Homo sapiens: one gene and its partners. The protein of the gene in region 4 interacts with the protein of the main gene of each other region in a pairwise test. Each region holds a gene or a part of one and is shown on either strand. Other genes may lie near its edges. The genes, in order: SLA2, PTPRJ, TNS3 and MET.

Region 1 (7,023 bases), on a different chromosome or scaffold from region 4:
CCCAGCCTAGTCCTGGAGGCAGGGAAAGGCCATACCAGAGTAATGGTCCACCAGGGCCTGGAGTGAGGGGAAGGTGAGGCGCGGTGAGATGTACAGCCAGCCATTGTCAAGGCAGTGGATCCTGTAGTGTCTGATCCGGTCCCAGGATGCAGGGCGGCTGAGGCGGACTGACAGAGAGTAAGAGCCTGAGGAGAAAGGGGTCCAGGGGTGGCACTGAGGCCCTGCTGGGACTCGGCCCCACCTAGGCTGGGAAACGAAGATAGGCAACGTGACCATGGGGCCCCGGCAGAAGGGAAGTGTCTGGGGCAGAAGCAGGACAAAGACTTGCTCTCTTGGTCATCAATAATATGTTCATAATAGATGGGGGTCTTGTGAGGGTGAAATCAAATCACACACAGAGCCCTCAGTACAGGGTCTGGCACTGTGTGAGTGAACATTCAGCGTTGGCTGTTCTTACAAAGACTCAGGTGGCAGATATGTTAGGATGCAAAAACACTGTCAAGAAGATGCTGGCAAGGAAGTGGAGAAGTAGGACCTCCCACCCTGCTGGTGGAAGAGAAATTAGTACGAGCCACCTTGGAAACAGTTTGGCATTAACTAGATGAGCTGAACATGCACGTACCTTACAACCCAGCAGTTCTTCCCAGGCACAATACCTCAGAAGCACACAAGCAATATGCACAGCGGCATTGTTTGTAAAAGTCAAAAACGGCAAACAGCCCGTTTGTGCTCAAGAGTAGAATAAATTGTGGATTATAGAGTGTAGTGCTATACAGCAGTAAAAATTAATAACTGCTACATATAAGCATAAGGAAATCTTGGAAATTAAGCAGAAAAACATTACAGAGCATACATTCAGCCTGATTCTATTTAAAGTTCAAAGATAGCCAACATGACATTATATGTTGCACAGGCACACACGGCAAAGCTCTGAAGAAAAGCAACTGAATGATTAACACAGTGAAGCATGAGAGGGGGCTACAAAGGGCTTGTTAGGTAATTTCAGCTGGCAAGTGGGCGCGTGGATGTCAGTTTTATTAGTGCTGCTCAACCTACATGTATACATTACATACACTGATGAATGACAGTTTCACCAGCTTTGCATGTTTCATTTTTTCATTTTTTTTTTTTATTTTAATTTTCTTTTTTTTTTTTTTTGGAGACAGAGTCTCCCTCTGTTGCCCAGGCTGGAGTGCAGTGGTGCAATCTCGGCTCACTGCAACCTCCGCCTCCTGGGTTGAAGTGATTCCCCCGCCTCAGCCTCCCGAGTAGCTGGGACTACAGGCGCCTGCCACCACCACGCCCGGCTAATTTTTTGTATTTTTGGTAGAGACAGGGTTTCACCATATTTGCCAGGCTGGTCTCGAACTCTTGACCTCGTGATCCGCCTGCCTCAGCCTCCCAAAGTGCTGGGATTACAGGCATGAGCCACCGCGCCCAGCCAGATTTTAATTTATTTTTAGAGCCATGCTCTCGCTCTGTTGCCCAGATGGCGTGCAGTGGCATGATCACAGCTCCTGGGCTCAAACAGTCCTCTTGCCTCAGCCTCCTGAGTACTTGGAATTATAGGCGTGAACCACCCCGTGCCTGGCCATATAAGCACATTTAAAATATTAAAACAGGCTAGGGGCAGTGGCTCACGCCTGTAATCCCAGTTCGAGACCACCCTGGCCAACGTGGTGAAACCCCATCTCTACTAAAAATACCAAAGTTAGCTGGGTGTGGTGGTGCACACCTGTAGTCCGAGCTACTTGGAAGGCTAAGGCAGGAGAATCACTTGAACCCAGGAGGCAGAGGTTGCAGTGAGCCGAGATTGTGCCACTGCAGTCCAGCCTTGGCAACAGAGCAAGACTCTATAAATAAATAAATAAAAAACCCAAGGCCGGGGACGGGTGCAGTGGCTCACGCCTGTAATCCCGGCACTTTGGGAGGCCGAGGTGGGCGGATCACCTGAGGTCAGGAGCTCAAGAACAGCCTGACCAATGTGGCGAAACCCTGCCTCTACTAAAAATACAAAAAAAAAAAAAATTAGCCAGGTGTGGTGGTGTGCGCCTGTAGTCCCAGCTACTTGGGAGGTTGAGGCAGGAGAATTGCTTGAACGCAGGAGACAGGTTGCAGTGAGCCGAGATCACACCACTGCACTACAGCCTGGGCAACAGAGCGAGACTCCATCTCAATTAAAAAAATAAATAAACAAGGCTGGGCAGAGTGGCTCATGCCTGTAGTCCCAGCTACTCTGAAGGCTGAGGCAGGGGGATTGCTTGAGCCCGGGAGGTGAAGGTTGCGGTGAGCCAAGATTGTGCCACTGCACTCCAGTCTGGATGACAGAGTGAGACCCTGTCTCAAAAAAAAAAAAAAAAAAAAAAAATTAAAACAAAAGTTAATGGGCCGGGCGCGGTGGCTCACGCCTATAATCCCAGCACTTTGGGAGGCCAAGGCAGGCGGATCACAAGGTCAGGAGATCAAGACCAGCCTGGCTAACACAGTGAAACCCCATCTCTACTGAAAATACAAAAAATTAGCCAGGCGTGGTGGCGTGCGCCTGTAATCCCAGCTACTCAGGAGGCTGAGGCAGGAGACTCGCTTGAACCCAGGAGGCAGAGGTTGCAGTGAGCCGAGATCAGCCACTGCACTACAGCCCGGGCGACAGAGTGAGACTCCGTCTCAAAAAAATTAGTCCAGGCGCAGTGGCTCAAGCCTGTAATCCCAGCACTTTGAGAGGCTGAGGCAGGCAGATCACGAGGTCAGGAGATCAAGATCATCCTGGCTAACACGGTGAAACCCTGGCTCTACTAAAAATATAAAAAATTAGCCGGGCGTGGTGGCGGGCGCCTGTAGTCCCAGCTACTCGGGAGGCTGAGGCAGGAGAATGGCGTGAACCCAGGAGGCAGAGGTTGCAGTGAGGCGAGATCGTGCCACTGCACTCCAGCCTGGGTGACAGAGCGAGACTCCGTCTCAAAAAAAAAAAAAAAGGCTAAAAGTAAAAAGATGGAAAAAAGATATATCATGCAGACAACCATAAGTAAGCTAGAATGGCTTATTAATGGGAGAATGTTAGTGGGATATTAATATCAGACAATAGAATTCAAAAGACTGGAGTGCAGTGGCATGATCTTGACTCACCACAACCTCCGCCTTTCAGGTTCAGGTGATTCTCCTGCCTCAGCTTCCCAAGTAGCTGGGACTACAGGCACGTGCCACCATGCCCGGCTATTTTTTTGTTTTTTTAGTAGAGATGGGGTTTCACTATGTTGGCCAGGTTGGTCTTGAACTCCTGACCTTGTGATCTGCCCACCTTGGCCTCTCAAAGTGCTGGGTTTACAGCTGTGAGCCACTGTGCCCGGCCAACAAATTTAAAAGGATTGAAATCATTAAAAATATGTTGTCTGGCCACAATGGAATTAAATTAGAAATTAATAAGGAAAAGGTATCTAGGCTGGGCGCAGTGGCTCAAGCCTGTAATCCCAGCACTTTGGGAGGCAGAGGCTGTTGGATCACCTGAGGTCAGGAGTTCAAGACCAGCCTGACCAACAAGGCAGCCTGACCATCTGTACTAAAAATATAAAATTAGCTAGGTATGGTGGCACATGCCTATAAATCCCAGCTACTTGAGAGGCTGAGGCAGGAGAATTGCTTGAACCCAGGCAGCGGAGATTGCAGTGAGCCGAGATTGTACCATTTCACTACAGCCTAGGGAACAAGAGTGAACTCCATCTCAAAAAAAAAAAAAAAAAAAAAAAAAAAAGTATCTAGAAGCCAGGTTTGGTGGCTCACGCCTGTAATCCCAACACTTTGGGAGGTTGAGGTGGGCAGATCATTTGAGGTCGAGAGATTGAGATGCGTCTGACTAACATGGTGAAACTCCATCTCTACAAAAAATACAAAAAAATTAGCCAGGCTTGGTGCCAGTAATTCCAGCTACTTGGGAGGCTGAAGCAAGAGAATTGCTTGAACCTGTGAGGTGGAGGTTGCAGTAAGCTGAGATCACGCCACTGCACTCCAGCTTGGGCAATGGAGTGAGACTCTGGGGGAAAAAAAAAAAAAAAAAAAAAAAGGCTGGGTGCGGTGGCTCACACCTGTAATCCTAGCACTTTGGGAGGCTAAGGTGGGTGGATCACCTGAGGTAAGGAGTTCAAGACCAGCCTGGCCAACATGGTGAAACCCCATCTCTACTAAAAATACAAAAATTAGCCAGGCATGGTGGCACACGCCTGTAATCCCAGCTACTTGGGAGACTGAGGCAGGAGGATTGCTTGAACCTGGGAGCAGGAGGTTGCAGTGAGCCAAGATCACGCCACTGCACTCCAGCCTGGGCAATATAGCAAGACTCTGTGTCAAAAAAAAAATTGGAGAGACTGAAGTGGGAGGGTCACTTGAGGCTAAGAATTAAAGACCAGCCTGGTCAACATAGAGACCCCCTTCCCATGTCTGTACAAATTTTTTTCTTTTTTTTTTTTTTGAGACAGAGTCTCGCTCTCTCACCCAGGCTGGAGTGCAGTGGCGCCATCTCGGCTCACTGCAAGCTCTGCCTCCTGGGTTCACGCCATTCTCCTGTCTCAGCCTCCCAAATAGCTGGGACTACAGGTGCCTGTCACCACACGTGGCTATTTTTTTTTGTATTTTTAGTAGAAACGGGGTTTCACCATGTTAGCCAGGATGGTCTCGATCTCCTGACCTTGTGATCCACCTGTCTCGGCCTCCCAAAGTGCTGGGATTACAGGTGTGAGCCACCGTGCCTGGCCAAAAAAAAATTTTTTTTTAATTAACCAGGTGTGGTGGTGTGAGCCGATAGTCACAGCTACTCAGGAGGCTGAGGCAGGAGAATCACATGAACCCAGGAGGCAGAGGCAATTATTATGCCACTGCACTCCAGCCTGGGCGACAGAGCGAGATTCCACCTCAAGAAAAAATAAAAACAATGCTGGGCGCGATGGCTCACACCTGTAATCCCAGCACTTTGGGAGGCCGAGGCGGGCAGATCACGAGGTCAGGAGTTCAAGACCAGCCTGGCTAACATGGTGAAACCCCATCTCTACTAAAAATACAAAAATTAGCTGAGCGTGGTGGTGGGCGCCTGTAATCCAGCTACTCAGGGAGCTAAGAATCACTTGAACCGAGGAGGCAGAGGTTGCAGTGAGCCGAGATTGCGCCACTGTACTCCAGCCTGGGCAACAGAGCTTGACTCTGTCTCAAAAAAATAAAATAAATAAAATAAAGAAGATACAGAAGAATATAATTTGAGAGACCTCTGAAAAGTATGGCAAGATTAAAACCATAGAAGTTATGGAAGACAAGCAGAGTCGAAAAAAGGATTTGCTTTTGTAACTTGATGATCAAGATATAGTTTTTAAAATTGTTCAGAAATACCACACTGGCTTTTTTTTTTTTTTTTTTTTTTGAGACAGAGTCTCCGTCTGTTGCCCAGGCTGGAGTACAGTGGTGAAATCTAGGTTTACTACACCCTCCGCTTCCCAGGTTCAAGGGATTCTCCTGCCTCAGCCTCCTGAGTAGCTGGGATTACAGGTGTGCACCACCAAGCCTGGCTAATTTTTGCATTTTTAGTAGAGACAGGGTTTCACCTTGTTGGTCAGGCTGGTCTCGAACTCCTGACCTCGTGATCCACCCGCCTAGGCCTCCCAAAGTGCTGGGATTACAGGTGCGAGCCACCACGCCCAGCCAGAAATACCACACTGTTAATGGGCATAATGGTGAAGTGAAAAAGGCCCTTACTAAATAACAGAGGTAGCCTGCTGGATGGTAAGTAGTCGTGGAGGTGGATCTGGCAATTTTACAGGTTACAGAGGAAACTTTGGAGGTAGTAGAGGTAATTTTGGCTGCAGTGGAAACTTTGGTGGAAGAGAAGACTGTGGTGGTGGAGATGGTGGCAGCAGAGGTAGTTATGGAGGAGGTGATGGTGGCATCAATGATGGTGAGCCTGCTTATAGCAGTAGACGGGGCTGCTGTGGTGGTGGAGCAAGATATGAAAACCAAGGTGGTGGATATGGTGGCGGTGGCGGAGGATATGATGGTTACAATGAAGGAGGAAATTTTGGCGCTGGTAACTATGCTGGTGATGGGAACTATAATGATTTTAGCAATTATAGTGGACAACAGCAATCAAATTATGGACCTATGAAAGGAGGCAGTTTTGGTGGAAGAAGCTCAGGCAGTCCCTATGGTGGTGCTTATGGATGTGGTGGTGTAAGTGGTAGATATAGTAGCAGAAGGTTCTAAAAACAGCAGAAAAAGGCTATAGTGTTGTTTTTTTTTTGAGACGGAGTCTTGCTGTGTCACCAGGCTGAAGTGCAGTGGCGCGATCTCGGCTCACTGCAGGATCTCTGCAGGAGAATCGCTTGAACCCGGGAGGCAGAGGTTGCAGTGAGCCGAGATCGCGCCACTGCACTCCAGCCTGGGTGACAGAGCAAGACTCCATCTCAAACAAAACAAAACAAAACAAAAAACAAAAACTGAACATCACTTGCTTAACAATGAGGATAAATGTAAAATTAAAATTTATTTTAAAAATAAGAACTAAACATTGGCCAGGGACAATGGCTAATGCCTGTAATCCAAGAACTTTGGGAGGTGGAGGTGGGAGAATCACTTAAGCCCAGCCAGGAATTTGAGACAAGCCTGGATAACATGGTGAGAGTCTTTCTCTACAAAAAATTTAAAAATTAACCAGGCATGGTGGTACATGCCTGTGGTCCCAGCTACTCCAGAGGCTGAGGCAGGAGAATCGTTTGAGCCTGTGACGTTGAGGCTGCAGTGAGCCATGACTGTGCCACTACACTCCAGCCTAGCCAACAGAGGAAGACTCTGTCTCAATCAATCAATAGCTGAACATTGGCTGGGTGCGGTGGCTCACACCTGTAATCCCAGCGCTTTGGGAAGCCGAGGCAGGTGGATCACCTGAGGCCAGGAGTTCAAGACCAGCCTGGCCAACCCATGGTGGAAGTTGCAGTGAGCCAAGATCATGCCACTGCACTCTAGCCTGGGTGACAGAGCAAGACTTGATCTCAA
Region 2 (6,915 bases), on a different chromosome or scaffold from region 4:
ATGCCAGTTCAAAAATTGCTTTTCCGGGCCTACTAAGCACTGAGCCTTCCGGCATCTCAGCTTTCCAGCTTCCACACCCGCCCTTATTAATGTCCAAACAGAGCTGTGTCTTTTCCATGACTTGTCCATTTGTTTAACCTGGTATAGTTGATTCCATTTTATAACACACACATAAGCACATACACACACAATCCAGGCCTCAAAAAACCAGTCAGCTCTTAGGAAGGTAGTCACATACTTGTTTCCTAAACAAACTTCAGAAATATCTCAAATTGATTCAACTTTGAAAAATTCCATTCACACCCACCATTTTGAGAAGACACAGTGATACGTCCCTATCATTAAAAGTAAGATCAAAGTGAAAACACGGGAAAAAAAAAAATAGCACTTTGAAAATATGAGGCCCAGGCCGGTGACCCAGGTTCCCATCTTGTCTTCTCTAATACCTTGCTGGGTGACCTCAGCCTGCTCCCTGTCTTCTCTGGACATCAATATCCTCATCTAAGAGCTCTGAGGGGTTTCAGCTGTCTTGAAAGTCTGGTCCAGCTCAAAAATGCACTGATTCCCTGAAATATCCATTATCAAAATGAACTGCTGAATGTGGATTTTGAAGATGCTTCTTCTGGGAGCCTTTTAGACTTCCTATTTCATAATGTGTCCAAAAAAAAAAGAAATAAGAGAGTCCTTTTGAGGTTCTACAGAACAAACCATAGAGGAAGGAAATATCTAAATACAGGACAAGTGTAGAGTGGCAATATGCTAATGAAATACAAGGAAGGATTGAGCAAGCAATAAATTTACCCAAGAAACTTTTTGCTGATTGAGAACACAGCTAGCAACCACTATGGCTGGAGCAAAAATAAATAAATTTTATATATATATAATTTAAAATTTTTTTGCTGAAGCAAAAAAAAAATTACATATATTATACATTTAAAAATAAATGAAGCTTTAAGTTTGGGGGTTTTCTGTTTTTTGTGGTTTTTGTTTTAGCATAAACTTTTGATACAAGAAATCTTCAAATACAAGGCTTTTTTAACTTCAGACACTGCTTCCCTGAATTTCCTTACATGGACAGGGAGAAGACAGCCCCCACAGGCACTGTACCTTAATAATGAGAATCCCATGTGGAAACCCTTAATATTTACAAAGTTCTTTTAGACATTGGCCAGTGGAAGCCCCTCAAACAATTCCATTGGGCAGAGGGTGCTATACTCATTCTACAGATGCGGTTAACTGAGGGTAGAGAAGCCTGAAGAGCAAGTCCAGCCCTGTGGCCCGGCCCTGGAGCCAGTCTCCTGACATCTACTCCCAGGTTCTCTGCAGGAGGTCACATTGCCTTCTGGCCCCCAGGAGAGCCTGTGCAGAACCTGCTGGGGAAACTGCGAGGAGAGACCCTTGGGTGCCGAGGGTCACGCAGCCCCCAGGCCCCAGCCCCCTTCTCCTACAGCCTGCTAGGCGGCATTGCTGCCCCAGGGTGATGCTTCTGCTCTCTCCTGTATTCGCGCTGGAGAAGTTTTCCCTGAAACCAGGTTCCATCCCCAGCCAATAACTCATTTCCTCAGAGATGGTGTCTGTATAAAACAAGCAAGATGGTCATTTGCAGAAACGCACAGCAAGGCAGCCCTAGACCGCTTCCCCTGCGGGTTCAAACCCCAACAGGCTCCAGAGGCTAAGAGGACGTGCCCGCTGGCTCAGCTCCCATGGCACGGGCTGGGTGCTCCGCTATTTCACTTCTCTCCCTCAGTTCCCCATCTGTGAAATGGGAATGCCCCTTCAGCTGCTCTGCCTCAGCCCCTATGGAAATGCCAGGAAGGGGAAAGGTCGGTCACCAAAACGCCAGGGACAGCATTATCTGAAAAGTGAAGCCAGAAAAGAGGGTGAGGGTGGGGTGGGGAGGGGGAGCCAGCGCCCACAAAGCACGAATTAAACACCCATGAAATCAAGCACGACGCCAAGAGGGCCGGCTGCCTTGAGAAAAGCCAGCGTGCGGCCACCTTTTCCCCGGCCTGGGAACTTTCCCCAGGAACAGGGCCCTCGGCCCGGAGTCCCGCGCCTCGCCCAGGGCCCCACTGCCCAGCGCCTGGCCCTGCCCTGTCGCCCCCGCCGCCCCTCGGGCCCCTGCAGGCCGGGTCGGAGGTCTGTCGGCAAAGGCTCAGCCAGGCCGCCCGGCTCTGCGTCCCCAGACCTCCGCAAACACGCCCCCTCCGGCCGCCTCCGGCTAGGAAGCCGGGCCCGTGCCCGCCAGATGTGCCCAGCGCCGGGAAGAGCCGGGCCAGGGACGGCCTGGAGCCCGCGCGGAGGCTTTCCCCGGGAGGCTCGGGCACCGCGGCACCCGGATCCCGCCTCTCTCCCCCGATCCTGGGCAGCCGGAAAAGGGATCGATCGCCGGCGTGCGAGGCCGGCCGGGGTCCCCGCAAGTCGCCTTCCGGGGATCCGGGGATCCGGACCCCCGCCCCCTTCCCCGGAACCCCCCGGGGGGGTACGCTCGGGCAGGTGCAGTCAATGCCAGTCCCGCCCCAGCCTCCTGCCCCCCGCCCGAGCCCACCCGGCGCTTACCTGGCCCAGGCGCAGCAGCAGCAGCAGCAGCGGCAGCGCCCAGCGCAGCCCGGGCGAGCGCGGAGGCAGCCGCGCCTCCCGCGCCGCCGGCTTCATGCCCCGCGCGCCCTGGAACGTGCCCCGGACGCGCGAATCGGGCCCCGCCGTGCGCCCGAGCCCGGGCACCGTCGTCGCCGCCTCCTGCCGTCTCCTTCGCCTCCTCCTCCGCCAGCCGGTCCGCCTCGTCCCCGCTCCGCCCGCCCCGGGCTTCCCCGGAGACATGGCAGCGGCGGCGGCGGCCGCGGCCACACGCCGGAGCCTAGCGCGGCTGCCGCGGGGGGGCCGCGTCCCTGAGCGCGCAGGGGCTTCGCGGGGCGGAGCGAGCGGCGCCCACCCCCAGCGCGCGGCTACCCGGTCCCGGCTCCCGCGGCTGCTCCCGCTGCCTCCTCCGCGCGTCATGCGGCTGGGGCTGCTGCAGGGAGCCGCGGCGAGCGCTCGGCCCCCTCCCTTCCCCTCCCCCTCTGAATATTCATCGCTTCCTCCCGCCCCGGCCGGCCCGGCGGCTGCGGAGCTCCGCAGCCCCTCGCCGCCGCCCGCCGCTGCCCCCGCCCCCTCCGAGCCGGCCGCGGATCCCCTCCCGCGGGCAGAGGAAGCGCTCCCGCCTCGCCCGCCCCTCCGCCCAGCCCTCCCACATTCCTGGGACTTGGAGCCCGGGACCAGGCTCCGTGGCTCTAGCGCCTCGAGCCGGCACCCCTCAGGACGGGCTCCCCAGCCTCACACCAGGTCCACGGCGCCGGGTTCGGGTGGGCAGAGGTTGACCGAGACCCCTACTGAGAGCGCAGCCAAGCCTGATTGTAGACAGCAACCCGGCGAAGGCGCGTTTGACCTGGCCCTGGGTGGGCTTGGGGGTGCGTGAACCCCGAAATTGTAGAAGGCACGCTGTACATTGTGTTCTGTCCCCCAGCCCCCGAGCGCCGGCCAGGGAGGCAGAGAGCCCAGTACAAGCCAGTCCAGGGATTAGAACCCCAGCTGTGGCATATGGTGGACGGGGCTCTGCTGGTAGTACCAGCCCTGTGAACTCTGGAGACGCATTTCTCCTCTCTGGCCGACCCCACCCACCCTCCTCTCCTCCCGTGTGAAATAAAGATCGTACTAGGACGTGTGGAGAGAGAGGTCCACTGCATTCGCGATTAAACGAGACAGTAGTTAGTAAAGTCCTAAACACCTAGCCTGACACATCGTGGGACTCCACATACATTAGCTCTTCTGGAAGCTTTCATCACGTTGTTAAAGAGGTCAATGAACTGACAGGAGTTAAAGATCACAGCAGATATTACTCCTGTGCCCATGCACAGAGGAAGACACTAGGATCAGGGAGGCTATGCCACTTGCCCAGGAGAAGCCGCAAGAGAAAGGGCCAAACCAGAGAGTGCTAAGGAGGAAGAGGTTAATTCCAACCAGGAGAGAGGTGACACCTGAGCTGGGCTTTGAAGGATGTGTTGAGTTTCACCAGGCCAGTAGAGGGGAGAAGTGTCTCAGGAGGTGGGGCCAACTTGGCAGAAACGAGGCAGCAGATGCTTCGAGCTTGGCCTTCGGAGAAACAGGAATGGGAGGCTGGGGGATTCATACTGGGGGAGACTTCAAAGGCCAGGATAATGAGTCTAGGCTGGATTCTGTGTGCAGCAAGATGCAGACCACGAGGTGTCCAACACTACCTCCAGACACCCGTTGGGCCTCAGGTTACCATCTACAAGATGGGAATACACATTCACTTACAGGGTCTAAGTGGTTCCCACCAGACAACACACCCAGACAAGCACTGAGGATAAAGAAACTTTGCCAGGCCGCACGATGGCTCACGCCTGTAATCCCAGCACTTCCGGAGGCCAAGGTGACTAGATCACTTAAGCTCAAGAGTTCGAAACCAGCCTGGGCAACGGGGTGAAACCCAGTTTCTACAAAAATTAGCCGGGTGTGGTGGCACACAGCTGTAGACTAAGCTACCTGGGAGGCCGATACAAGGATGGCTTGAACCTAGGCTGCAGTAAACCAAGATGGCAACACTGCACTCCAACCTGGGGAATAACGTGAAAACCTGTCTCAAAAAAAAAAAAAAAAAAAAGAAGAGGCTGGGCGTGGTGGCTCACACCACACCTGTAACCCCAGCACTTCAGGAGGCCGGGGCAGGCAGATCACTTGAGGTCAGGAGTGCGAGACCAGCTTGGCCAACATGGTGAAAACCCATCTCTACTAAAAATACAAAAGTTAGCTGGGCGTGATGGCGTGCCTGTAATCTCAGCTACTCCAGAGGCTGAGGGCAGGAGAATCGCTTGAACCCGGGAGACGGAGGTTGCAGTGAGCCAAGATTGCACCACTGCACTCCAGCCTGGGTGACAGAGTGAGACTCCATCTCAAAAAAAAGAAAAGAAAAAGAAAAAAGAAACCTTACCTATGGACTTACACACCTTGCCACCCTTCATTTAAACACTATGTAATTATCATAATTCACAAGGATTTTTGTTCCTCTGTGCCTCCTCCCCTCTTGAGGCAGAGACATAAAAGGTGTTCATGTCCATGATACCCAGAGGGAAGGAAAGCTTGATTTAAGATGCTACCAGGGGGCTGGGCACAGTGGCTCACGCCTATAATCCCAGCACTTTGGGAGGCTAAGGTGGGCGGATCACCTGAGGTCGGGAGTTCAAGACCACCTGACCAACATGGAAAAACCCTGTCTCTACTAAAAATACAAAATGAGCTGGGTGTAGTGGCGCATGCCTGTAATCCCAGCTACTCGGGAGGCTGAGGCAGGGGAATCGTTTGAACCCAGGAGGCAGAGGTTGCAGTGAGCAGAGATCGCGCCATGGCACTCCAGCCTGGGCAACAAGAGTGAAACTCTATCTCAAAAAAAAAAAAAAAAGATGCTACTGGGTAGCCAAGGATGATTGCCAATTATAAAAAAGAAAAAGAAGATGATAGTAGGTCTGCAGGCTGCCTCGGATCCTCACAGACCCTACAGACCCTACTAACCCTGAAGACCGACCCAGGTCTCCACAGATTCATGGCTTGGGTCAGCAAACAGCTCTGTGAACTCCTGCACGCCCTTCAGTTTTCTCCTGGGTAAAATGTATGCCCAGCTTAAGTATTGGTTGGAACTGGATTTCGCCACTGCACAGTGATGAAACAAAATAAACAGCCTTTTCAGGAAAGGGAGTGAAGACCTGAATAATAAACTACCTCTTCAGCCATAAACAGATCACACTGGATTAATGACCTCTGAGAGAAATGAAATTAATCCTGGGTAGGTGTTACATCAACTCCTTGAGGACAGGGGTTGGGACCTCCTCACCTTGGTAGCCCTGCAACGTCCCACTCAGTGTCTTGCCTGTAGCAGGGATTGAATATTCGTGCAGATGCATGGCCACAAAAATGTATCCAGGGGTAACATGATGTGAAAGTTTATTTTTCGGCTGGGCGCGGTGGCTCACGCCTGTAATCCCAGCACTTTGGGAGGCCGAGGTGGGCAGATCACAAGGTCAGGAGATGGAGACCATCCTAGCTAACACAGTGAAATCCCGTCTACTAAAAGTAGAAAAAATTAGCCAGGCGCAGTGGCAGGTACCTGCAGTCCCAGCTACTCGGGAGGCTGAGGCAGGAGAATGGCATGAACCTGGGAGGCGGAGGTTGCAGTAAGCCGAGATCGCACCACTGCACTCCAGCCTGGGCAACAGAGCAAGACTCCATCTCAATAAAAAAAAAAAAAAAAAAGAAAGAAAGAAAGTTTATTTTTCCACGAAGATAAGTTGGGGAAGGATCATTCCCTTTGCAATGGATTTGAGACTATATTCCAGTCTATAGGTTTCTCCATCACATGTCACTTCACCTAGAAATTCCAAGATGCCCCAACACTGAGTTGGGTGCACTTCCTCCTCCATCCACCATAGCTCCCTGTGCTTAACCTTATCTAACCACAATTTTGTAATTGCCTGTTTATTTGACCACCTTCCTCGCTGGACTCTAAGACCCTTGAAGATGGGGTCTGCATCTTGTTTATCATTGTATCCTCAGCAAATAACAGTCACTCAGATAATATTGATTTAAATTAAATAGCAAACTAAGGTATTCTGTATATGCCTGTTCTCTCACGCACAAAACAAATTCCATCTGCAAACAACTTTTCAGGAATAAATTCTACTATGCAAAGTTCAGGACACATTCGCCTTGAGAATATACAATATTTGACCTTCTAATCATGTCTCCTTCAAACAAACCTAAAGCTTTACTGAACAGAGGGCTAGATAAATAGAGGACCAAAAGGCTAATAAACCAAGAACCTGGAGTGGAGGGCTCCTGGATGCATTCCAAAACTTCCTCATAGAA
Region 3 (7,682 bases), about 69 Mb from region 4:
GTTTTTAATACTCTTGCTGTGAGGAAGAGAGTAACTAAGTTAATCAACCACCTACTTAATTAACCAACTAACCAGCATCCCTCATTCTAGATCAACAAGGATAGCAGCAGAGGATTCTAGGTAGACAGGACTGGCTCTAGGTCATTCCAGGCACAGCTTGCAGGGGTTAGCTGATTCCCCAGTGATTTCTGGGGTCCTACAGGAAGGACCCGGGGTCCCAGGGTCAGCTGACCTCCTGGAGAGCTTCAGACGCCCAGACCCACCCTTCCCATGATAGCTCCTGCTGCATGGGGCAAACCCACCAGATCAACCCGCAAGACAGGAGGCCCCTCCCTGGGAAATCTATGGGGGCCGCTGTGAGGAAGCCTCGAAGCCTCAATTCTAAGCGTGCTGCTGAGGCACTCAGCAAATGTCTCTGGCTTCCTAGTAAGTGGCAGGGATCTAAACAATGCTTTCTGCCCTCAGGAAGGTGGAAAGTTCCTCCCCCTCTCAAGTTCATACACAGGGACACAGGGAGGGAACAAGAGGCTTCCCCTGAACAGGGGTGGTTTACAACAGGCTGATCTTAAGAAAGGAATGGGGCACATAGAGTCAGAGAACTGGGCTCATTCAGATCCCTAACTGTTCCCAGACTTTAAGAATTTACTTGGTATTTTACTCATCTGTAAAATGGGTCCTTGTGTAGAGTCCTAAGCAGATATAAGCTGCGACTGCCAAATGGTAGGTCAGCCCTTCCACTCACTGTTCTTGCCATACTGCCTCCTCCTCAGGTCTCTGCTATCCCCTTCAGCAACACCTCCTGCAGTGGAAGAGCATACTTTGACACCCCCTCTCCTGCCCTTTATTTCCAGAGTCACATTTGCAAACAGCTCACTTTCAAAACATTAGGTGCCAAAGAGACACTTTGTTAAAAAAAAAAAAATCAATTTGCATTCAGGAATAAGTAGTGCCCTGGGGCTACTAGTTTTTCTATCTTGGTAGTTTTTTAAAGACATAATTCAGCTGAGCTGCTGATAGCTATGGCAGCCTCAGCTGAGGAATCGCTGTCTGGACATGCATTAGAATTCAGTCGACAGACGCGCAGCAGCAGCCAGGAACAGGGGTCTGGGACCCTAGAGTCCTGTCCCAGAATCCCAGGCTGCACTACCACCATGTTTCATTTCATCTCGGCCAAGTTACTTAGCCTTCCTTTGCCTCAGTTTACTCGTCTGTAAAATGGGGTAATCATAATCCCAACTCCCTCCAAGGAATGTAATTTGGGTGAAATGAAATGAATGCATGCAAAGCATTTAGCACAGGCAAACACTCAATCGGTATGCCTGTTACTTTGTCTTCGGGGTCACCATTACTATTCCTAAGGTCAGGAGTCGGGCTTGCTGCCAGTTCCTCCTGTCAATTCCCTGTGTACACACCCCCCACCCCCTGTGCTACCACACCCCCACCAGGACCCAGTGCACCTCCATCTCTGTGTAATGGCCTTGCCCCTCCACCCTCCAGCTGCAGCGACTCCCCACCCCCTCCCTGGCCCTCAAGGCCTCAGCACAGAAAAGCCTTTCTTAATACTTGTTGATTGATTTGCAAATATAACCTCACAGGCCCCAAAGAGAGAAGAACCAGAATCACCAGAACAAGTAAACCTCATTCAAAAGGGAAAGCATGAAAGCAATTTAAAAAATTAATATGCACAGACCAAAGCCTCAAGAAAATCTAAAATGTCAAAGGGTTGGTTAGTTCAGAAGGGCCATGCAATATTAATACAATGAGTTCTGCATTCATACTTTTCAGTATATTTTCAGAGTCCTCCATGATCATGCATTCAAATAGTGAAAAAAATGGGGGGAAAGCCAACCCGGAAGATCAAAGTGTGTGAATGCGCCCCAAGGAAGCCTGGGGGCTTCCCAGGGGGTTGTGACCACCCTCAGTAGTGCTCTCTGCTGGCCCCACACCCTGATGGCGCTTTGAGTTTTTCAACCACGCTGGAGTTCGGGTCATCTGCTGACACTGTCTGGAGAATGCCTGAGGAACGCCTGAATCTCTTCCCGCCACAGACACTCAAATCACTCCAAGCAAAGGACCCGGGACTCACATGTCAGGCCGCTGCACAGCACCGACACAGAGACCCCTGGGCCGTCCGGGACCCTCCCTCCTCCTGCTTGTCAGCGACAGCTCCCGCGTGCCAGGAGGCACATGCCACACAGCTGGCCCCCAGCCTGGGACAGCACCCCCCACCCCAGAATATCCCCCCACCCCGAGGTCCCGTCCTTCAGGGAAAAAAAGGAAGCGCGTAAAGACCCCCTGCCTCCCACCCACCAAAGGGAAAGGGAAAGAGACGCACTGGAGAGCTTGCCTAGAAAAAGTAGGAGAAGGGTCTTGAGCCTGCCCATTGAAGCCCCTAGCTGCGCTCTCCACCTGGAGTCTCGAGACGGAGTCCTAGGGAGCAAAGTCCGCTCGGTCCCGACAGCGACTGCGACATAGCTGCTCCGGTCTCTGCCCTCAGTCCAGGGCGCCCGGGCGCCACGGGTCCCACTCGAGTGGTCCTGCGCCCCAGCCAGTCCCCAAACCCAGCCAGTCAGCGCCCCCGTCCCCGGACTCCGGCGAAGCTGGCCCGCGCCCCAGCCCCTGTCCTGGGACTCCTGCCGAGCCCCCGCCCCCCACGCGCCGCAAACCCCGTACCCGCGCGCACCAAACCCCTTGCCCGTGCGCCCCCAACCGGGTCCCCGCGCTCCCTAACCTGGGTTCTCCCGTGACCCCATCCCCGCGCCCTGAGCTCCCGTACCCCGCGCTCCCCGAACTCTGTCTCCGCGCTCCCCGAACTCAGTCCCCGCGCCCCAGCTCCAGATCTCTGTGCTCCCCAAGCCTCGTTCCTGCGCCCGGAGCGCGAAAGCCCGCGCCGGGCCCGAAACAAAGAGGACCGCGGCGCGTGGCCGCGTTTCCTCCTTCCCCGGCCCCAGTACCTGGGGGAGCCTGAGGCGCGGTCCGGCAGGGCGATGGCCGCAACGAGGCTGGGCTCCGAGTAGCGCGCGGGCGGGCCCGTCCTCCTGGCTGGCTGCCGGCGCCCGCGGCAGGGCCCCCTCGAGGCGGCGCGGGCAATCGCCACGGCCGGCCCCCGCGCCCGCGCCCCGAGCCTGGCGGGTCACCTGGCCTCATCACCCTAACAATGCAGCGCGCCTCCAGGCGCCCTTCACCGGGGTCCCCCGCCCTGCCGAGGTGCGCCCTGGGACCTCCCTTCGCTGGCCGCAGAGAGGACCTGGAATTATCAGACCCATTGAGCAGCCCAGGCTCCAAGTGGTCTGGAGGCTTGCAGGTTCCGCCGGGCCGGTGTTAGAGTACCTGGGGAGGCGGGTTCGGATCCTGGTTCCTGCACAACCAGTTCATTCTTTCATTCAGCGCCTGTGATTAAGGTGCTCTCCGGGAGCAAGACCTACCCTCCCTCCTGTAGCTCATAGCCTAGTGGGAGTCGCGCATACATAAAGGAGCACAGCCGCTCCGGAAAGCCTAGGGTGCCGTAGAAGCCCCTGAAATACCCAGCTAATGAAGGGAGGAGGTCAGGGAAGTCTTTAGAAGTCACATGACTTCTTAAAATGCGCCGGGACAAATGAGCAGAATTTAGGCAAGCCAGGGGAAACCAGAAAAACGATCCCGAGCAGAGAGATTCTCAGAGGAGGAAAGGCCTATAGGTTGTCCATCCTGACTGTCCATCCCTGAGATTCAGATGGCCCTGAACTCAGTCGCTTAGCCTCAGTTTCCCCATTTGTGAGATCGGGGGAATGGAAAAAGTTTGCAGAAATCAGAAGTGCTCTTCCTCCAGGGAGGTCACAAGAGAAATTTCATCAGCGGTTTGTCCTGTGGTCCTTTCCAGGAAAACATCCTCCCCGCCAGCCTCTCACAGAAGAGACCTAGATTTCATCTGCCACGTGGAGCAGGCGGTCTCAGAATCCCACCCGGAGCAGGGTCCAGGGCAAGTCTTGGAGGACAGTCACCAAGAACTGCTTTGGATTCGGGAACAGAGCTGCCTAACCCATCCGCAGCCCTGGGGTCCTGCCCTGTTCCTCTGGCCCCTTCAGGGCAGCGGGGGAAGCAGGGAAAACAGCCTGTCAGAGATGGCAGAGAAACCGAGCAAGAATAATTATCCTGGAAAAGACTTTCAGAAGTAACCACCAGAAACTTCGAGTCCCCAGATCCAAACAGCTGAGAATGTGGGGCCTGAGCCACGCTCTGACTCCACTCCCACCACATGAGGAGAAACAAGAGCTGCTTTTCTGGAAGACTTGAACAACCCCTGCTGTGCTCTGGAAGGTAGTGTCATTTCTCATCCCCAGACTGATCTGGGTATTTATTCCCAGGCAAAGGCTTCATGAGCACCATGCCCCAGCCCCTAGAGATGAGGCAGGCATTTTTCCTACACTCTAGGAGACACCAGGTCAAGAGTCAATGAGATGAGTCAAGGGGTGCCAGGGAAGATGCCATAGGGGAAGGTGGGGAGGAGGTCACAGCCAGCTGGGTTAGGAATGGGGGTGAGGCTGGTACTGTTACGATCTCCTTTGTCCTGATAAGGAAACAGGATCTGACATTCTAGGCAACTTGTTCAAGGTCACCCACCTGGTCAGGCGAAGAAAGTGGGAGGGATCAGGACTATCTGGCCTTGAGGCTACTCTTAACTTCTTCCCAGCTGCCTGCCCACACCATCCACTCTGTGCAATTGGACTAAATCATCACTTTGCTCAACCCTCTCTTCCATTAAGACCGTGGTGATCTTCACACCCAGAGCCAATTACGTGCTATTCTGTGCATCACAGAAACCATCATAATGCCAAAAACCATGTTGGCTGAATGACAACATGAATTTGAGCTTCTTGCAGTGTTAGGGCACCCATTTACAGGAGGTGACACTGTTGTTTGTCTGAGAGCTCACAGTCAGGAAAACTCAGTGCAGTGCTGGGGTTCTCTGACCCTTTGTCAGGGAGCCTCTTCTAAAATCTCTCCAAACTGCTACCCACACCCAAGCCAGATGGCCCCACCGGCCACACTGCCCTTGTTGGGGTAGCAATGGAATGGGATGCCCCAACCACACCTTTGTTTCTAGAAAAACTGTGACTTGGGTGCTCATTCGTGCAGTGTCTGTGGTTATATTCCCTGGCAGTGTCCCAAGAAAGGAGAAGAAAAACCGGGCTCCAGTATCCCCACGCACTCTGTGTTGGCTGGGATGGCTGTTCCCCGGGTTCCCCACACCTCGTCTAGAGGCACATGAAGGGAAGCCTCTCTGGATCCCCAATCGGGACCTGGGCCCCTTCCAGAGCTTCGCTTCCCCAGCCCAGGGCCTCCCCACTTCGCAGGCTGCAACTTCAAGTTTCCAAGAAATTAAACAAAAACAGGGCATGAACCAGTATCTGAAAAAGGGAATGTGCATTTTTTCCATCCTTAGCCATCCAAAAAAAACTCAACTTTGAAAACAAAAGTCTCCAACATTTAGCTGAAAAAAAAAAAAAGCAGCAATATGCCAAGAGTGGCCTCTCCCTCCTAGTATGCCAAGCAGAGGGCAGGGGAGTCTGGGCAAGAAACTCCCGCCAATCTCCTTCCTCCCTGAGCCCTTCTTTGCAGACTCATTCTTGCTCCTCCCCTGTAGGAGTTTTAGAAGATGTGTTGGAAGCTTGTCATTGCAATGAAGATTGTCTTTGCCACCGCAAAAATCTGAATTTGTATCCCTAGATCAAGGGAGGTATATGAGCAAGGACTTGGATATTTTTCCTTATTTCTTACTTTCTGTCACTGAAAATATTTCCCAAAGACCAACTGAAAGAGACAGCAGGAAACATTACACAGGATGGAGTTACAAAGCTCTACAGCGCATTCAGAGAACTGTGGAGTTGGAACATGAGCAAATGCCTGTGTTTTGCCTTAAGATACTGAGTCTCGGCCGGGCGCAGTGGCTCACACCTATAATCCCAGCACTTTGGGAGGCCGAGGAGGGCAGATCACAAGGTCAAGAGATCGAGACCATCCTGGCCAATATGGTGAAACCCCGTCTCTACTAAAAATACAAAAATTAGCTGGGAGTGGTGGCACGCACCTGTAGTTTCAGCTACTCAGGAGGCTGAGACAGGAGAATCGCTTGAACCCAGGAGGCGGAGGTTGCAGTGAGCTGAGATCGCACCACTGCACTGCAGTCTGGGTGACAGAGCAAGACTCTGTCTCAAAAAAAAAAAAAAAAAGATACTAAGTCCCTTGAGACTCTTACTAGAACACCTGGCCCTTTCCTCTCTTCCTTTTTCTCTTCCCAAACACACGAATCCTCACCTACAGCTCAACAAAGTGGGCTTTACAGTTGCCAGGCCTGGCTAGAGGCACCTGAGCTTTTCCGTGTCTCAGAACCTTTTCGGAATTTACATAACCTTGGTGTTTGTGATGGCTCATGTCAGATGTCAACTTGATTGGGCTAAGGGTTGCCCAGATAGCTGGTAAAATGTGATTTCTGGGTGTGTGGGTAGCGTGTTTCTGGAAGAGCTTAGCGTTTGAATGGGTAGACTGAGTAAAGCAAATCCATCCTCACCAGTGTGGGTGGGCACCATCCAGTCCTTCAAGGGCCCAAGTAGAACAAAAAGGCAGAAAAAGGGTGAGTTCTTCCTCTTCCTTCTTGAGCTGGAACATTCATTTTCTCTTGCCCTCAAATATCAGTGCTCCTGGTTTTCAGGCCTTTGGACTCAGACTGGCAATTACACCACCAACTTTCCTGGGTCTTCAGTTTGCAGACATAGTTGTGTGAGCCATAATTGTGTGAGCCAATTCCTATAATAAATTTCTTCTAGGCCAGGTGCAGTGGCTCACGCCTGTAATCCCAGCAATTTGGGAGGCCGAGGCGGGCAGATCACGAGGTCAGGAGATCGAGACCATCCTGGCTAACACGGTAAAACCCTGTCTCTACTAAAAAATACAAAACAAAAAAAAAATTAGCCAGGCGTGGTGGCAGGAGCCTGTAGTCCCAGCTACTCGGGAGGCTGAGGCAAGAGAATGGCGTGAACCCGGGAGGTGGAGCTTGCAGTGAGCCGAGAATGCGCCACTGCACTCCAGCCTGGGCGACAGAGTGAGACTCTGTCTCAAAAATAAATGAATTAATTAATTAATTAAATTTCTTCTATAGATCTGCATATGCCCTATTGGATCTGTTTCTCTGGAGAACCCTAATACAGCACCTTGTTTCCAAAAACTGCACCTGCACACCAACTTCTACAAACATGGACCCTGGGAGCCCACTTTGTGGATGCCCACTGCATGGATGCAGATTCAGTTTCTTTTTCTTCTTCTTCTTCTTCTTCTTCTTCTTTTTTTTTTTTTGTAGACAGAGTTTTGCTCTTGTTGCCCAGGCTGGAGTGCAATGGCGCAATCTTGGCTCACCACAATCTCCGCCTCCCAGGTTCAAGCAATTCTCCTGCCTCATCCTCCTGAGTAGCTAGGATTACAGGCATGTGCCACCACGCCCGGCTAATTTTTGTATTTTCAGTAGAGACGGGGTTTCTCCATGTTGGTCAGACTGGTCTTGAATTCCCAACTTTAGGTGATCTGCCCACCTCGGCCTCCCAAAGTGCTGGGATTACAGGCATGAGCCACCGCGCCCGGCCCATGCTCTTCTTCTTAACATACCTACAGGGACTTCGTGCCCTGTGCCAGCCCCATGGCCCTCTGCTTCT
Region 4 (7,023 bases):
CTCCTTTGAGACTCGGCTCTAGCATCATTTCCAGTCGAGTTGGTCTCCCTTCCTCTGCATTCTGATAACTGTTAACCATCAAGTGACTTGAGCTTCCCAGGGAAGGGCATCATGTCTTTGTAGACATCCAATAAATGTTAGTAGAAGAAAGGGGGGTCCTGCCAATAATCATATGTCTTTCCCACAATTTAAACTCCTTTTCACCCTGTTACTACTTTTTGCTTGTCTTCCCTTTGATAAACATTCTACTTCTTCATCACCCATTCCCTCAATTTAACATCTGATACTACTATAGAAACTACTGCCTTGAAGATCAACAAACGGGTTCCATGTGGACCAACGTCCTCCTTGAGACCCTCACTTGGCTTTTGTGACACAGTGCAATATTTGCTCTCTTGATGCCTCACTGACCTTAACCTTCCTTGACTCCTGCATAGATTTCTCAACTGTGGGTATCCCCTAAGATTTAGGCCATTTGCCTTCTCTTCTTTCATCTAGTCCATTCATGAACACACCCATTCCTGGTTTTAACCATCACCTCTGTGCAGATAATGTGCAAAGTTTATTTCTAGTCGGAGTGGAGTCTCTGTTACTCTGCCAATCAAGTTCTAAATTTTTATTCCTTCTAGTGCAGCAGTGGCAAATACCTGACACTCATGTGTCTCACTCAAGACAGATACTGTTTCACCCAAGACTGATCATGCCGCTTTCCCAGTCAAGGCAGGCTTCTCAGAATCCTTCTCATTTCCGCCTCTGTTCTTTGGCACTAATGCTCTGTCTGCCCAGAGTTTTCATTCTTCACTTGTTCCAGGCACCTGCTTCCTGGTGAATAATGTAAAACCTGCTAGTCATCCTTATAGGAGAATATGCACTCATTTCCCAGCAGCACACCCGACTCAACGTGGTTAAAACCAATCTACCATTCCCATATATTCAGCCTAACTTCCCAGTGCAGTCTACCCTAGTTTTATAACTTGTTCTACTTTTTCCAGATAACTGCTAATCATCTTTGTTTGTCTTTGCTTTCTTTTTTGCACTGTGTTTGATATATTAGGGTATCAAATCCTACTTATTCAAATATGTCCCTTATTCATTCCTTCTATCCTTGGTGCTACCATATTTGTTCTGGCTCTTGTTACCTCATTATGGGATATAAAAATAGCCTGTCAACTGGTCTTTCCATTGCCAGGATCTCTCTGTTCTAAGCCACCCTGCCTCCAGATCAATCTTCCTAGAGTAAAACCTTCATTGTATGACGGTCTAGCTCAAAATTCCTTAATGATTATTAATCACCTCTTAAAGTCCCCAATTCTTAGACTATTAGTAGGGTAAAATTATTTTTGATTTGGAGTCAAAAAATTTTGGACGCAAATTTTGGCTACTACACTTAACCATTATGTAACTTCGAATTTCGGCTTAATTTTTATTCATCATTTATTCAGTATCTATTTGTTTAACACCTTCTGCATCTCAGGCTCTGTACTAGGTACTTGGGATACAATGATGAGCCAAGCAGACCTTGTCCTTGCTCTCCTGGACCTCACAACATGGTGAACTTGTCTCTATTGCTCATGATCATAATAATCCTAAGTACAGGCTGTGCTTTTTTCCCTTGATACTTGTAGCTTTTGGTTTGTGCTATGCAGGGTATTGTAATACCATTTGCAGTGCCACAATAATCAGCATATATGTGTTATCACTCAGCCACATTGCAGCTTCACTGAAGGGCAGGGGCTATGTCCCATTTCTCATAGCGCAAGCACAGTGCCCTGCACATACCAGCTGCTCAGTGATTTCTGATGTGGTTTTTGTAGATCCAGGGTTAGTCTTTGGCAGTCATGATGCCTAGTATGTTTTTAGAGGCTCCCTTTGTCCTATCAGAATTATGCTATTTAAAAAAAAGTCATACCTATTTAGTTTATATTCATTCTAAGGCCTCTCCTTTCCAACCTACTACCCTGCCTATAACTATTATAAGGAGAACTCACAATGTTTATAACTTGTGCACCTTAAGTTTTAAATACTGAATAACAGGCCCATTCATGTTTCCTCATAGAAATACTGTCTATATGCATACAATGAAATGTTAAAATAATGTTCTTTTTACTAAATAGCTTTTTGACTTGGTAATGAACAATATGTTGTTTTTCCCTGAGAAGTAGTTCTAGGACTTTAGTTCTGAAGATTATGTTGTATTTTATACATTTTCAGCCTCCTGTTTTTCAGTTCCCAGTGATCTTACATTAAACATTTGTCTGTCTAAAACAATAGGTTAACTATAGCCAAATTATAACCATACCATTCCTCTCCACACAAAATCCTATAAACAGCATGTGATCATATTGCTTCTAGAATTTATGATTGTTTTCTTCCAAAAGGAAGCTAAATTTAGCCTAGTAATTCTACATGCGCTCAAGAAAACAATGCCTGCTGTGATTTCTAGAATAAATGAATGTGAACCACAGTTCCTTTACTTGACTAACAGAGAAAGTTTAAATATCAACCTAGTCATTAACCACAGTTATTAAACCACGTTAAACAACCAGCAAGGGGTTAAGAAAGAAAGTTGCTATGTTTTTTCTTTCATTGCTGAATGAGTCTAACTTAGTTACTGTATCAACCTTAATACAGAACATTGTTTGCATCTCAATGGTTCTCTAAAATTATTCGTTCATGGCTTGAGTTCTAAAATTAAACTATGTGGAGTCATGTCCAACCGCACAATGCATCTTTATGTGAAACTTGCTAGAGTTTTTGTTTTCCTTCTATGTAAAAGTCCAGTTGGGAAGCTTTATTTCTGATAGATTAAATGGTATAGGTCTTTCAGTTTTCTCTTCATTTCTGACAACTGAACTGCTCTCGCCTTGAACCTGTTTTGGCAGATAAACCTCTCATAATGAAGGCCCCCGCTGTGCTTGCACCTGGCATCCTCGTGCTCCTGTTTACCTTGGTGCAGAGGAGCAATGGGGAGTGTAAAGAGGCACTAGCAAAGTCCGAGATGAATGTGAATATGAAGTATCAGCTTCCCAACTTCACCGCGGAAACACCCATCCAGAATGTCATTCTACATGAGCATCACATTTTCCTTGGTGCCACTAACTACATTTATGTTTTAAATGAGGAAGACCTTCAGAAGGTTGCTGAGTACAAGACTGGGCCTGTGCTGGAACACCCAGATTGTTTCCCATGTCAGGACTGCAGCAGCAAAGCCAATTTATCAGGAGGTGTTTGGAAAGATAACATCAACATGGCTCTAGTTGTCGACACCTACTATGATGATCAACTCATTAGCTGTGGCAGCGTCAACAGAGGGACCTGCCAGCGACATGTCTTTCCCCACAATCATACTGCTGACATACAGTCGGAGGTTCACTGCATATTCTCCCCACAGATAGAAGAGCCCAGCCAGTGTCCTGACTGTGTGGTGAGCGCCCTGGGAGCCAAAGTCCTTTCATCTGTAAAGGACCGGTTCATCAACTTCTTTGTAGGCAATACCATAAATTCTTCTTATTTCCCAGATCATCCATTGCATTCGATATCAGTGAGAAGGCTAAAGGAAACGAAAGATGGTTTTATGTTTTTGACGGACCAGTCCTACATTGATGTTTTACCTGAGTTCAGAGATTCTTACCCCATTAAGTATGTCCATGCCTTTGAAAGCAACAATTTTATTTACTTCTTGACGGTCCAAAGGGAAACTCTAGATGCTCAGACTTTTCACACAAGAATAATCAGGTTCTGTTCCATAAACTCTGGATTGCATTCCTACATGGAAATGCCTCTGGAGTGTATTCTCACAGAAAAGAGAAAAAAGAGATCCACAAAGAAGGAAGTGTTTAATATACTTCAGGCTGCGTATGTCAGCAAGCCTGGGGCCCAGCTTGCTAGACAAATAGGAGCCAGCCTGAATGATGACATTCTTTTCGGGGTGTTCGCACAAAGCAAGCCAGATTCTGCCGAACCAATGGATCGATCTGCCATGTGTGCATTCCCTATCAAATATGTCAACGACTTCTTCAACAAGATCGTCAACAAAAACAATGTGAGATGTCTCCAGCATTTTTACGGACCCAATCATGAGCACTGCTTTAATAGGGTAAGTCACATCAGTTCCCCACTTATAAACTGTGAGGTATAAATTAGAAATAAGTATCAGTCTCAAAAAGAATATCCAGGGCTTCTTTTGTGCTTTGTAAATGGTGTTTATCCAAAATAGTTGCAGATTTTTTCCAAGAAAATTGAGGAATTGAATCTTCATTTACACCTAAAATTATATCTTTAAAATGTAAATGGTAACTAAAAGAAAAATGTTTTTACAATTCAGATTTGCATGTTCGTGACATTTCAGATTATATTAAAGTTATTTCCCATATAAGCTTTTTTATATTTACACAGATTTTATCAGATTTACACAGATTTTATCAGATTTACACAGATTTTTATCACAGCAGCAATTCCCATAAAACATAATTATTGACATTTCTATATAATCTCTGCAACATTTACAAGATGTTCAAGCTAATTTGTATGCCTTAAAGAATTGTTCCTTATGAGATTATATTCTCTCACTGATACACAACTGATTAATCTATATTCTTGACATTACTTAAAGGAACTTAACTTTAAAAAACCTCTTCTGAAATGCTGGTAAATAAAACATTTTTAAATGAGCTCGTATACTTCTCTAAATAACCTGTAAGAGTAGAGAGGAAATGTTTGTTCCCAAGTCCTTCCTTTAGAGCTTGACTTTAATCATGGACTTCCTTCTGGAAAAGACTTGTGTCTACCAAGTTCTAGCTTGGCACTTTACCTGGTTGGTATTTGTTATTTATAAGCATAAATATTTTGGTTGATGATTATTTATACTTATATGAAATGGTATTTTCTTAGGAGCTGTTAGAGATATTCTTGGTGCTGTGATTTAAATATAGTAACAGCTACCAGCTATACCTGGAGATTTATCCTGCTAGTCAGTTGATCACCTGGTCTGAGTGTTTATTGTGGCTTTGAGTTTCTTGATCTGGGCCAGATTTGGAATACGGACCTGACTATGACCATCATTGAATGAACAAATAGTATAGCTTTTCTAAAGACAGTTTGACTTTGGCATGGTATGTTTCACTTACTTTAACAGGTTTCAATCTAAGATATAAAGGTTATAATTGCAATCAGGTAGAACATTAAACATGTCCTCAGTAGCATAAAGTATATAATTTGCTGAGGGGTAAAGGCATATGAATTCAGAGACATTTGGTTGACTTTTGCTGAAATGTCTGGGACACTTCTCTAGATGGAAACTATAGTTAACTTTTTATGATGCTAGGAAAATACTTCCAAGAAAGTCAGTTCATCTTTTGGTGAACTAAAAACAAAACTTCCTTCCTCTCTCTTCCAAAGTCTATGAATATACATAACATAAATGCACATACATTCCAACTAAGACTTATTTCCCCCTACATACATTTAATATATGTTGCAAAGAAGCAATAGAATTCCTTATGAAGCTCCCCCTTTTCTTTACTAGAAACTACAAAAGAATGAAAGGAAACAAAATGATTTTCAGAAACCTGGGATTAGGAAATAAAAATATAATATTAATAGCATTACAGAGAAGATATTTTTCTGCATCCAGTAAGTTGATTCTGAGACACAAGTTTTAAAAGAGTCTATTAGGAATTCCTCCAGGGCTCCTAGAGCACATGGATTTGCTATTTAAATCTTTCTTTGTTAAAAATTAAAAAGAAGGGTAGGGCAAGAAAAAAATTAAAAAGAGAATTCATAAAGGTATATTGATATCTCATTTTTTAAATTTTGTACATTTCAATCCTTAGATGTAAAAATACTTATCAATTCTAGAAATTCTCAAAACACATCTGAATTTTATCCTACCCTTTTGACTTTTTTAGTGTTCCAAGGGAGACAAACAGACAGGATTAGCCAATGAAATTCAGGTCAGTTTTATCGCCCAGGAAAAATTCCCAAAATGCACTAGCCACACCTGAAACCATTATCACTCCCATCACAAAAATTCTTGCGGGAAACAAGATGGAACTTGCCAACATAGTCTTCTTACAAAGGAAGCCAACTTTTACACTGGCCAAATTCCATAGACAAATACCTTCAAACCTCCTCTATTTATTTGCCTGTTTATCTTCTCTGGTTACAAAGATCAAAATTCTTCTGAGACTGAGACTACACATATTCTCTCTCTCCATATACCCCATCCAGACCTCAGATTGTTCCAATAATGAGCATATAATCATTTCCTAGCTTAATGCCAAAATGAAGGCACCTAGAGCCATTCATCACACACAAAAAAAACAAAATGATTACAAGATCAAAGCTGTTTAGCAGGACTCTCAAGCAATAAGATGACTCCATTTTGTCTTGGCAGATTTACTTGGCCAGAAATCAAGTGACCCTTTTAATAATTTCTTGGAACTGAGTTTTTACTTTGGCATCAAGTTTGGTGAAAAGACACACATATTGTAGTTTTGTTATTAACATCTCTAATACATTTATAAAGGGACTCTTGTGGACAAGGTTAAGAAAGCTGAGCTGCAGCAGTAACTTTCTACTTATGCTTCTGCCCAGTCCTCAGTGTTGACACATTGCTGAAAGAGGGATTTCCTGGCACTCCAAGAGCTCTCCACCATGTGCAAAAAGTGTTTCTATCACAAGATCAGATAATGGGAGTGCCAGGGACGGGCCTTTTACATTTTAGGGGTCCAGCAGGTGTACCAGGCCTGACTTGCTTGTTTAGGATCACATATTTTGTTGCTTTTCCCAGTCTCACATTTCATGAAATATGTCTATGCAAACTCTTCACATGCATCTTCTCATATTGATGACATCACAAAAGCCCTCTTTTGAGTCATTTGATAATTCCCAGTACTCGTCATCTTCACCCATAAGCTATTTGTGCTTCAGAACTCTTTGTCTCCACATATGATGCTGTTTCTGGAAACTTATCCCAAGCCACAAATGCCCACTTATAGAATACCAGTGTTGTTGACTATGTCA

Evidence for each region.
Region 1: the proteins of MET (region 4) and SLA2 interact in binary tests that used the Homo sapiens proteins (3 or more experiments, as listed by UniProt).
Region 2: the proteins of MET (region 4) and PTPRJ interact in binary tests that used the Homo sapiens proteins (3 or more experiments, as listed by UniProt).
Region 3: the proteins of MET (region 4) and TNS3 interact in binary tests that used the Homo sapiens proteins (3 or more experiments, as listed by UniProt).

The regions. Positions count from the first base shown.
Region 1 is NC_000020.11:36,615,190-36,622,212, forward strand, and holds part of SLA2 (src-like-adapter 2), read right to left. Parts: intron 186-7,023; coding exon 36-185; intron 1-35. UniProt on the Homo sapiens protein: Adapter protein, which negatively regulates T-cell receptor (TCR) signaling. Inhibits T-cell antigen-receptor induced activation of nuclear factor of activated T-cells.
Region 2 is NC_000011.10:47,976,653-47,983,567, reverse strand, and holds the start of PTPRJ (receptor-type tyrosine-protein phosphatase eta isoform 1 precursor), read right to left. Parts: upstream 3,010-6,915; 5' UTR 2,998-3,009; coding exon of another isoform or gene 2,656-2,997; coding exon 2,560-2,655; intron 1-2,559. UniProt on the Homo sapiens protein: Tyrosine phosphatase which dephosphorylates or contributes to the dephosphorylation of CTNND1, FLT3, PDGFRB, MET, KDR, LYN, SRC, MAPK1, MAPK3, EGFR, TJP1, OCLN, PIK3R1 and PIK3R2. Plays a role in cell adhesion, migration, proliferation and differentiation.
Region 3 is NC_000007.14:47,579,097-47,586,778, forward strand, and holds the start of TNS3 (tensin-3), read right to left. Parts: upstream 3,016-7,682; 5' UTR 2,955-3,015; exon of another isoform or gene 2,777-2,954; intron 2,603-2,776; exon of another isoform or gene 2,410-2,602; intron 800-2,409; exon of another isoform or gene 755-799; coding exon of another isoform or gene 743-754; intron 1-742. UniProt on the Homo sapiens protein: May act as a protein phosphatase and/or a lipid phosphatase. Involved in the dissociation of the integrin-tensin-actin complex. EGF activates TNS4 and down-regulates TNS3 which results in capping the tail of ITGB1.
Region 4 is NC_000007.14:116,696,189-116,703,211, forward strand, and holds part of MET (hepatocyte growth factor receptor isoform b preproprotein), read left to right. Parts: intron 1-2,882; coding exon of another isoform or gene 2,883-2,896; coding exon 2,897-4,096; intron 4,097-7,023. UniProt on the Homo sapiens protein: Receptor tyrosine kinase that transduces signals from the extracellular matrix into the cytoplasm by binding to hepatocyte growth factor/HGF ligand. Regulates many physiological processes including proliferation, scattering, morphogenesis and survival.